Homo sapiens: one gene and its partners. The protein of the gene in region 1 purifies or fractionates together with the protein of each later gene. This does not show direct contact. Each region holds a gene or a part of one and is shown in the gene's direction. Other genes may lie near its edges. The genes, in order: ABHD17A, CCZ1 and CCZ1B.

What was found.
Region 2: the proteins of ABHD17A (region 1) and CCZ1 purify together in Homo sapiens (affinity purification with mass spectrometry, with the first as the bait; one large-scale study listed by BioGRID). This does not show direct contact.
Region 3: the proteins of ABHD17A (region 1) and CCZ1B purify together in Homo sapiens (co-immunoprecipitation; one large-scale study listed by IntAct). This does not show direct contact.

Annotation. Positions count from the first base shown.
Region 1 is NC_000019.10:1,876,279-1,879,520, reverse strand, and holds the end of ABHD17A (alpha/beta hydrolase domain-containing protein 17A), read left to right. Parts: exon of another isoform or gene 1-616; coding exon of another isoform or gene 617-638; exon of another isoform or gene 639-774; coding exon of another isoform or gene 775-857; exon of another isoform or gene 858-1,827; intron 1,828-1,833; coding exon 1,834-2,013; intron 2,014-2,095; coding exon 2,096-2,321; 3' UTR 2,322-2,711; downstream 2,712-3,242. UniProt on the Homo sapiens protein: Hydrolyzes fatty acids from S-acylated cysteine residues in proteins. Has depalmitoylating activity towards NRAS. Has depalmitoylating activity towards DLG4/PSD95. May have depalmitoylating activity towards MAP6.
Region 2 is NC_000007.14:5,905,184-5,908,831, forward strand, and holds part of CCZ1 (vacuolar fusion protein CCZ1 homolog), read left to right. Parts: coding exon 1-86; intron 87-3,648. UniProt on the Homo sapiens protein: Acts in concert with MON1A, as a guanine exchange factor (GEF) for RAB7, promotes the exchange of GDP to GTP, converting it from an inactive GDP-bound form into an active GTP-bound form.
Region 3 is NC_000007.14:6,802,251-6,805,898, reverse strand, and holds part of CCZ1B (vacuolar fusion protein CCZ1 homolog B), read left to right. Parts: intron 1-843; coding exon 844-961; intron 962-3,648.

The DNA of each region.
Region 1 (3,242 bases):
ATCCAGGTCCGGAGGACTGGCCCATGAGGCCCTGTGGCTGCGGAGCTTGGCCATCCTGGGGCAGGGCCTACAGGGTAAGGTGCAGACCCGCAGCACACATCCGAGGTCTGGGCCAGCCTCGATTCCAGATCCAGCCCTCCTAGTCATCCACGTCCCCAGCCCTGCGCTTGCCTGGGCCCTTCACCGGTGTTTGAGCACCGCCCGGGCCAGTGCTGCTTTGGACGAGGAGACCCGGGTGGGCCTCTGGTGGCTTTTCCTGCTCACCATCCACTGGGCCTGTCTCGTCCTGGCCCTGCCCAGCCCACTGGTCTGACCTGCTCCCACAGGGACCAGGCACAGCTCTGAGAAGTCAGAGGCCCTAGGGAGGTGGGGTCGTCGTTGCCTTGGTGATATGCAGGCAGTCCCTGCAGTGGGCCTGGGAGCTGGTCCCCTGGCACCACCCTGGCTCTGGGGGCCTCCCAGCAGTGTGGGACGCTGACACCAATCACCACTTCATGCGACTTCCTCGGCCCCTCCTGTCTCTACTGCCTGGGCCACTGGCAGAGTCACACCTGCCATGGCCAGCTCTGAGCTCTGTCTGCTCGGCCATCTGTCCTGCTGCCACTTTGTCCTGCAGGAACCTAGGCCCAGAGCTGTGAGGGGGAGGCCAGAGCGTGCCCAGGGCCTCCACCGGGGATGTGTCCTGTTCGTTTGAGTGGTGACATCCAGGTGGCAGCTCGGGGCTCCTGCCTGTAGCAGGTGGCAGGGCTGGGCTGGCTCAGCACACTACTGACCATGGCTGCCAGGGAGCAGGCCAGGGAGGCCGAGGCAGAGCTGGAGCCACAGGCACCAGCCAGGCAGCATCCTTTGGGGCATGGGTGAGTGGCGAGCTGTGGAGTGCTGCCAGGAGGCTGGGATTCCAGGCCAGGGACGGGGACAGCCCTGCTGGTGGAGATGCCAGGCAGAGGGGACGCACACCTGCCCATGCTCCTGCCTTGCAAGAGGGCGTCTGCCTGGGATCAGAGCCTAGAGCGTGTGGGAGGAGAGTTGTGGGGTCCCGGCATGGGCAGGGTGGCAGGTGGGTCCCGTGTGCTTGGGACTGGGCACGAGGAGGCCTTGTAACTGGTGCTGGATCAGCTGGGTCAGGGGCCGCACACCAATGACCTGGGGGTGAGGGTGCCCCTGGGTGGGAGCTGGTGGTGCTGAGGTGGCCGAGGACTTGTCCACTCCCAAGGGAAGGTGCTGGTGGGAGGGGGTGCCACCTCCGCAGCCACCACCCTCGATGCTGACCTGGGTTGCACTGGCATCTCATTGGGCGTGGGGACTCCGAGAGTCCAAAATTGGGTGGAGACATTTGGGGACACAGCTGCCTGAATTCCTCATGGCCAAGGGGGTGGGCAAGGGCTGCAGGGAGGAATAGTGTCCGCTGTCCTGGCCAGTGCACCAGGAACGGTTTTCTAACCCTGGCAGGAAGGTGTGAAGCATTCAGGATGTGGGGGCCACACAGTTCCCAGTGTGCACCTAGGGGTGACCAGGAGGAGGAGAGGCGCCAGGGCCTCCCTTACCCCCGCCCCAGGGGCACTCCGTAGGCAGGATCCCTGCAGATCCTAGCTAGGAAACGCCAGTGAACGGCAGCGCAGGGAACGGGGCGGGGCCGCTGGCTTCGCCCACCGCCACGGTGTTGGGGGCTGGGGGTGGCCCTCGGGACTGGTGTGGAGCCTGAGCCTGACCCACTGACTTGGCTGAGTGGGGAGACTGGAGGGTCGCATCCGGAGCTGGGCCCGGGGACGCCCGCTGGTGGGAAGGGTGCGCGCGCGTCGGAGGCCGCGGCTGACCCTGCTCCGGCGCCGCCAGGTACGGCATCAGCCCGGACAGCATCATCCTGTACGGGCAGAGCATCGGCACGGTGCCCACCGTGGACCTGGCCTCGCGCTACGAGTGTGCCGCGGTGGTGCTGCACTCGCCGCTCACCTCGGGCATGCGCGTCGCCTTCCCCGACACCAAGAAGACCTACTGCTTCGACGCCTTCCCTAAGTGAGCGGCCCGGGCGGGGACGGGGGCGGGGCGGGGCCCGGGCCGGGCGCGAAGTCTCACCGGCTCCACGACCCTCCCGCAGCATCGAGAAGGTGTCCAAGATCACGTCTCCCGTGCTCATCATCCACGGCACGGAGGACGAGGTGATCGACTTCTCGCACGGGCTGGCGCTCTACGAGCGCTGCCCCAAGGCGGTGGAGCCGCTGTGGGTGGAGGGCGCCGGGCACAACGACATCGAGCTCTACAGCCAGTACCTGGAGCGCCTGCGTCGCTTCATCTCCCAGGAGCTGCCCAGCCAGCGCGCCTAGCGGCGGCCCCAACCGGCCGGACCTCAGCAATAAGGCGGCCCCCGGACCTCACCCCGCGCCGGCCCCCACCCAGGGGCTGCATGTGGACCCCCCGGGCGGCCCAGGGGACCCCGCCCCGACCCAGGGGCTGTGGACGATGTACAGGCAACAGAGCTACGCACTCCTTTCCTTTTGGAAGCAAGAAGAAAATACGTGAAAACGGAAATTAAAGATTTAAAATTTTAGGGCTGCTCTCCTTCCTTTCATGGCTCTGCTCACTCTCTCGAGCGCTCAGCGAGCTCGAAAGGGGGCCGGGGTTCCCAGGTTTCGTCCCTGAGTCCCTAGGAGAGATCGGCACGGACCCCCTTATAGGTTTTACTCTGCGGAAGTGGGGTGGGTCTCTGTCTAGTCCGGGGAGCCCTTAGGGAGCTGGTTGCCTGGGCGATGATGGGTGGGGCAGCGTTTGAGCCCAGGACCCCTGCCTGCTTCCTAGGGAGGCTGGTGAGCCCTGCTGGGTGGGCGCGATGAGGACGCCAGGCGTGGGGGCCCTGCTGCCATCGCGGGACTGCCCCCTCGACAGCTTCCCGTCAGTCCTACTGCAGAGGGGCCAGGACAGCGCACTCTGGGTCCTGAGGTGCCGCGCTTGACGGACCTCAGAGCTCGGACAGGCCGCTTCCTTCGTAGATGGCGAAGCTGGGGTCCAGCAGAGGGCGGTGGCAGGTGCTTGGGCCCCGAGGGTCTCCCCTGGAAGAGGGAGCCGACACTGGAGCTGGGATCACGAGAAGAGTTCCTACGATCTCTAGGGCAGAAGGCTTAGGACCGGGAGGACTCGGGAACCGGTGGCCTGTTGTCCACCTTAGGGTTGGGCAGGGTTCAGCCTGTGTCGCGCGACCAGGCGGTGGCGAGGCCGGGATCCCAAGCTGCATCCAGCTAGCTCTAGTC
Region 2 (3,648 bases), on another chromosome or scaffold:
AAAATCCAGTCCTTTATTAATAGAATGGAGGAAAGCCTGAATATAGTCAAATACACTGCTTTTCTCTATAACGATCAGCTCATCTGGTAGGTACACCCCGAGGCATGGTATTAAAAGAAGAAATTAAGATAATAAAAACAGCAGTGACTGGATTGATGACAGGTTGTCAAACAGGAACTTGCAGCGGGGAGGATGGGTAGGAAGCATCTTCATAGATATTGTCAAAATAAAGCAGTGATTATTTAAAGCAGAACTAGGGTGATTTGGGTTCAAATTTCCAAGCAGAGGAGTTTAAAACTGGTTGCATGAAAGATGAAAGGCTGGGCACGGTGGCTCACACCTGTAATCTTAGCACTTTGGGAGGCTGAGGCGGGTGAATCACGAGGTCAGGAGTTGGAGACCAGCCTGGTCAACATAGTGAAACCCTGTCTCTACTAAAAATACAAAAAGTAGCTGGGCGTGGTGGTGCATGCCTGTAATCCCAGCTACTCAGGAGGCTGAGGCAGGAGAATCACTTGAACCCGGGAGGCGGAGGTTGCAGTGAGCCGAGATGGCACCACTGTACCCCAGCCTGGCAACAGAGAGAGACTCTGTCTCCAAAAAAAAAAAAAAAAAAAAAAAAAAGAGAAAATGTTCCTATCAAGTAAGGTTTAGGAATCCTGTTTTTATTTTGGAGTTTTTTTTTTTTTCTGAAATGATAAAAGCAGAATTTTTATACCTTTTTTTTTTTTTTTCTTTCTTATAGAGACGGGGTTTACTGTGTTGCCCAGGCTGGTCTCAAACTCCTGGCCTCAAGCGATCCACCCGCCTCAGCCTCCCAAAGTGCTGGGATTACAGGCACGAGCCACTGCACCTACTTTCTTTTAAAGAAACTAGATTTCTTTTTTTTTAATCCAAGAAATCCAAAGTGTTATATAAACCAGGAAATTACCTGCTATCGTGAAACTAGGTTTGTGTCCTGCAGTAGGAACAACGTGGGCACAAGACTGCCCAGCATATGTGACCCCTGAGAGCTGGGTGGCAACCGAGGTTGTGCACATTTGGCCTAGAGTAGGTGGACAGAAGTCATCAAGGCTTGCAGCTGTTCTGGGACCCTCAAGTTTTATGTTCCCGTTGACTAGAGCCCACTTTCTTTCTTTCTTTTTTTTTTTTTTTTTTGAGACGGAGTCTCACTCTGTTGCCAGGCTGGAGTACAGTGGCGCGATCTTGGCTCACTGCAACTTCCCCTTCCTGGGTTCAAGCGATTCTCCTGCCTCAGCCTCCCAAGTAGCTGGGATTACAGGCATATGCCACCATGCCCGGCTAATTTTTGTATTTTCAGTACAGACAAGGTTTTACCATGTTGGCCAGGCTGGTCCTAAACCCCTGACCTCAGGTGATTCCCCTGCATAGGCCTCCCAAGGTGCCTCGATTACAGGTGTGAGCCACTGCACCTGGCCTAGCCCAGTTTCTTAATTAGGGGTGTGGCCATATGGTACTACTATAAGGTAAATTCAGCTAATAGAAAAGGCAAAACTAGTTCCCCTAAAATTTACCTTCCCTGCCAAAATCTTGTAGCTCCATTTTAAGAAGAGAAACAAGTTACTGTAAAGAAATTTGAATCCAGTTAATAAACAACTTGGTGGGTTTCCACATGAACTTTATCTCCTAGGAAGACAACAGAAATTTCGGGTGAAACCCATCTACTTTTTTTTTTGTTTTTGAGATGGAGTCGCTTTCTGTTGCCCAGGCTGGAGTGCAGTGGCATGATCTTGGCTTGCTGCAACCCCTGCCTCCTGGGTTCAAGCAATTCTCCTGCCTCAGCCTCCCGAGTAGCTGGGATTACAGGTGCATACCACAACACCCAGCTAATTTTTTTGTAGAGATGGGGTTTTACCATGTTGGCCAGGCTGGTCTCGAACTCCTGACCTCAAAGGATCCGCCCACCTTGGCCTCCCAGTGCTGGGATTACAGGTGTGAGCCACTGTGCCCCGCCTCCACCTACTTTCTAATTTGACAAATAGTTTATCAGGCAACCTTACACTGTACTGACTCAGCTATAGTTGCTTTCTGTGATATGTACACAATGTTACTAAAGTGAAATTCTGCTGTGAAATGTAGGAGATGGGAGGCTAGTTGTGCTTCTGTAGCATCAGGTCTGCAGAGGGATGGCTCCTCCACAGATGGAAATGACAGGACGTGCTTGCAAGTCACACGCAGCCACAGCGATAGGGAGATGTCATGTGACAAGCCAGAATCCAGCAGTAGTGGCCCATGGCCTTGCTTCCACCAAAAAGAGAAGGGTAGCTGAGATTCTGATCTCTGGGACAGAACACAAGCCCCGCCATGGGTGCAAACTCCTGAGAGTGAGGAAGAGGGAAGGCTTAGAGCAGAGGGTCTTCCAGGAGCTCATTCTGGGAGACCCTGGAGCCAGAGTGACCAGCAGGGTTGGCCCTTTGAAGCCTGGAGTCACAGGACAATCTGGCGCCCAGCTCTGGGGATCCTGTTGGCATCGTCATCTTGGAATAGCATCTGAGGGGTTGAGCAGGGCACAGCTCTGGTGGCTGCACAGAACTGTTCTGTTGTCACCTCCAGTGTGCTCGTGGGGAAAGGTCAGTCCCAGGAAGTAGCAACAAAAATAACCTTCAAGCAAAACAGGCGCCAATGCTTACACCTGTCATCCCAGCACTTTGGGAGGCTGAGGCAGGAGGATCACTTGAGACCAGGAGTTCAAGACCAGCCTGGGCAGCATAGTGAGACTGTATCTACAAAAAATGGAAAAAAAAAAAAATAGCTGGGCATTGTGGTGTGCACTTAGAGTCCCAACTACAGAGACTACAGAGGTTGAGGCTGGAGAATCACTTGAGCCTGGAAGTTTGAGGTTGCAGTGAGCTATGATAGCACCACTGTACTCCAGCCTGGGTGACAGAGCAAGACCCTGTCTAAGAAAAAGAAAAACAGCACGTTTTGACGGAATTGCTTATTCCAAAGCTGTTATATTAAATACCAAAAAGACTTTTAAGCCAGGCGTGGTGCACATACCTATAGTCCCAGCTACTGGGGAGGAGGAGGCAGAAGGATCGCTTGAGCCAGGAGTTACTTGGAGACCAGCCTGGACAATATAATGAGGCTCTGTCTCTACCAAAAAGTGGAAAAAAAAACTTGTCACAAGCAGAGTATATATTACCCTTATGTATTTACTTAGTATATTGCTTTGATTTTTTTTTTTTGAGACTGAGTCTCATTGGCTTGGTTGCCCAGGCTAGAGTGCAGTGATGTGATCTCAGCTCACTTCAACCTGCGCCTCCCAGGTTCAAGCGATTCTCATGCCTCAGTCTCCCAAGTAGCTGGGATTAGAGGTGTGTGCTATCAGGCCTAGCAAATTTTTATATTTTTTAGTAGAGACGGTGTTTCGCCATGTTGGCCAGGCTGGTGTTGAACCCCTGACCTTAGGTGATCTGCTCACCTTGGCTTCCCCAAGTGCTGGGATTACAGGTGTGAGCTTCCGCGCCCGACCACCTTCACGGTATTTCAGTGATCTTGAATAGAAAACGCCCAGATCCAGCCTCATTGTCTGTCTCCTTTTAAAAAACCGGTTCCAGAGTCTGATACCTGCTAGTTTCTCTGTGCTTTTTCCATGTGCTGCTCCTTCCTGCCTCATTTCAGATC
Region 3 (3,648 bases), on another chromosome or scaffold:
TTTTGTTGGAGACGGGGTTTCACTCTTGGAGTGCAGTGGCATGATCATAGCTCACTGTAGCCTCGACCTCCTGGGTTCAAGTGATCTTCCCACCTTGGCCTCCTAAGTCGCTGGGACTGCCAGTACACACCGCCGGACCCAGCTAATGTTTTTGTGGTTGTTTGTTTAGACAGGGTCTCACTATGTTGCCCGGGCTGGTGTCAAACTCCTGGGCTCAAGCGATCCACCCATCTTAGCCTCCCAAAGTGCTGGGATTTCGGGCGTGAGCCCCCACACCCAGCCCATTAAATGATAAATGTGTTGTCATAAGCAATATAGAGGCATAGAGAGGAGCCCTGTTCCCCATCTGGGACCCCCCTGTCTCCTTAACTAGCCAGTGCTCATATTTTTTAAGTCCTAGTTTTCCCGCTAGTCAGCAGTAGAGTGTGGGCATCTTTCTGTGTCCCACCGACTGCGAGCTGGAGACAGCAGTGGTACCTCTCTCGGGGGGGTTCTGAGGATCGAATGAGGTCATGTCTGTGAAGCACCTGGCCCATGAGTGCTACGTAATGTTTGTTAAATAAACATACGACCTTCTGAGGTCTTTCTGGGGTAGGCAACCGTTTACCACCCTACAGGGTGTGCCTCGGTCAGCTTTTCACGGTGAGATAGGTCTTCGCCCTTTTTTCATCTGAAATGTAACCGGTTTTCTATCTTCTGTTTCTCTTCTATTTGAGGAGCAGAAGGGGGCCTGAGCATTCATTGTTTGTTTTCCCAGACCAGTGAAGTTTTCGTTTGAATACTGTTGTTCAGTGTCGCACAGTAAAATGAATCTTACTGGTATTTTTTGTCATGACTTGCCAGCCTCTGTCCACCCAACGTTGGATTTTTGCCGAAGACTGGACAGCATCGTTGGGCCCCAGCTCACAGTGCTGGCCTCTGACATCTGTGAACAGTTTAACATCAACAAGAGGATGTCTGGGTTTGTACTTTGCTTTCGGTTCACTTTCAGGCATTGAACGGCTTTTGAAATACACGTAGTTTTCACTTACAAATACGGGTGGTATTAACAGTCCTGTGTTCTCGTGGACTGTAGAGGATGGTGCTACGTGCCATTCAGGCCTCTGTCTGAAAGGGTCCCGGGGACAGTCACCCTGAGTGTTTCTGCCCCACGCTGGCAGCTGGGGCTGGGCCTTCTGGTAAATACCTTCCCTCAGCTCCCCCCGAATGGAACGTCCCATTTCACCAGCCCAGATTGTTACGTTCACTTGGACAGTAGTCATCGGCGTGGTCTTGGTGTGCACAGACTGAAAGCATTTTGCCTCTCGTTGTGTGAAAATGTGTAGGGGAAACTGGCTGGGATGTGGGGCACTGGGCCTGGGTACTCAGTCTGGCAGCCTGAAGTGTCTACACTGAGTGGGAGAGGCGGGATTCACTCCTCCGGCTCTCTAGACACTGAAATGTCCTTGAATTCTTTCTCCCTGGCTTTTTTTTTGAGACAAATTCCCACTCTGTCGCCCAGGCTGGAGTGTGCAGTGGCTTGATCTTGGCTCACTGCAGCCTCCGCCTCCCAGGCTCAAGCGATTCTCATGCCTCATCCTCTTGAGTAGCTGGGATTACAGGCGTGCACCACCATGCCCGGCTCCTTTTTGTATTTTTAGTAGAGACGGTTTCACCATGTTGGCCAGATTGGTCTTGAACTCCTGACCTCAAGTGATCCACCTGCCTCAGCCTCCCAAAGTGCTGGGATTACAGGTGTGAGCTACCGCACCCGGCCATGCCTATCTTTTCTCAATATAAAATAGTTATTATAAAGTGAAAGTGAGGCGATGGAAAGCACTTTGCGAAGTTGAAGTCCTGCTTTTAAATGGGCTCTCTACACATTTGAGAAGTTACTAAAAGGCTGTGAATTTCTGCATACGCTCATGGTCTTAATGTTCATACGTTGTTTTTTGGGTTTTTTTTTTTTTTTTAAGACAGAGTCTCAGTTGCCCAGGCTGGAGTGTGCAATGGTCTGTTCTCAGCTCACTGCAACCTCCGCCTCCCAGGTTCAAGCGATTCTCCTGCCTCAGCCTCCTGAGTAGCTGGGTGCCATCATGCCTGGCTAATTTTTGTATTTTTGTAGAGACTGGGTTTTACCATGTTGGTCAGACTGGTCTCGAACTCCTGACCTCGTGATCCACGCACTTCGGCCTCCCAAAGTGCTGGGATGACAGGCGTGAGCCACCGCGCCCGGCCCATATGTTATTTCTGCATGGTCTTGTATAACCGTGGGCCTCTAAGAGCGCAGAAGCGAGCAAAGGTGAAAGCACCTCTAGGTTTTGTACAACAGTGTGTGGATTACTGCTGTCAACAGCTTACATCTTTGTTGCTTTTTGTTTTTATTTTTTGAGACAGAGTTTCACTCTTTCACCCAGGCTGGAGTGCAGTGGCATGATCTCAGCTCACTGCAACCTCCAGCCCCTGAGTTCATTCAAGCAATTCTCCTGCCTCAGCCTCCCGAGTAGCTGGGACTCCAGGCGTGTGCCACCACACTCAGCTAATAATTTTTGTATTTTTAGTAGAGACAGGGTTTTGCCATGTTGGCCAGGCTGGTCTTGAACTCCTGACCTCAGGTGATCCACCCACCTCGGCCTTCCAAAGTGCTAGCATTACAGGCATGAGCCACCATGCCCAGCCAACAGCTTATATCTTGACAGTGCTGCTGAATCATTGAATCCTTTGGCCGTGAAAATACCAGGTTTTCCTTTGTGAAGGAGGCAAAAGTGAGTTAAATCGGTTTGGATCATGCAGGTTATCAACTAACAGATGGAAAGTGACAAAGTGTAGTGACCATAGAGAACGTGTCACCTGTTTTGTTTTTTTGTGGGTTTGTTTTTGGAGACAGGGTCTCCTGCTGTCGCCCAGGCTGGAGTGCAGTGGTGCAATCATGGCTCACTGCAGCCTTGACCTCCCAGGCTGTAAGTGAGCCTCCTACCTCAGCCTCCCCGGGAGCTAGGACTACAGGTGTGTGCCACCACGCCTGGCTAATTTTTGTATTTTTGGTAGAGGCGGGGTTTCGCCATGTGGCCTAGGCTGATCTCGAACTCCTGACCTCAAGTGATTTGCCTGCCTCAGCCTCCCAAAGTGCTGGGATTATAGGCGTGAGCCACTGCTCCTGGCCTCACAGAGTGTTTTGAGGATAGAAGCTTACACCCGATTTAAGTTCCTTGTCTACCCAGACAACTAAATTTACAACTCTTTCCAAACAGTTTTTCTTGTCATTATACTTTCCTTAACCTTAGGGAACTATGAAAACAAATTCTGGTTTTATAAGAAGTTTCTTTACATGTTCCTGGAAACTCAATCCTCCACGTTCTTTCTTTGCCTGGACGTAGAGTATTTCATGAGTACCCCATTGGTCCGGAGGTCGGATTTCTGGTACCCCCAGCCCTCCAGAACGTGGCTGCTAACCCTGAAGCAAGCAGAGGAGGCCTCTGAGCCCAGGGGCGGGGCTGTGCTCAGGCCCCATCCAGGCCCCAGGGTGGACACTGAGGGTGCAGGGAGGGGAGGGGAGGGGCCCCAGGAGCAGTGAGGCCCAGCTTTTCCCACTAGGTCCCCGAGGAGGTCACAGACTCTGACCTGGGAGGCAGCGTCGTAGCACTGCCTAGTCAGTTTAAGAAATAAAAA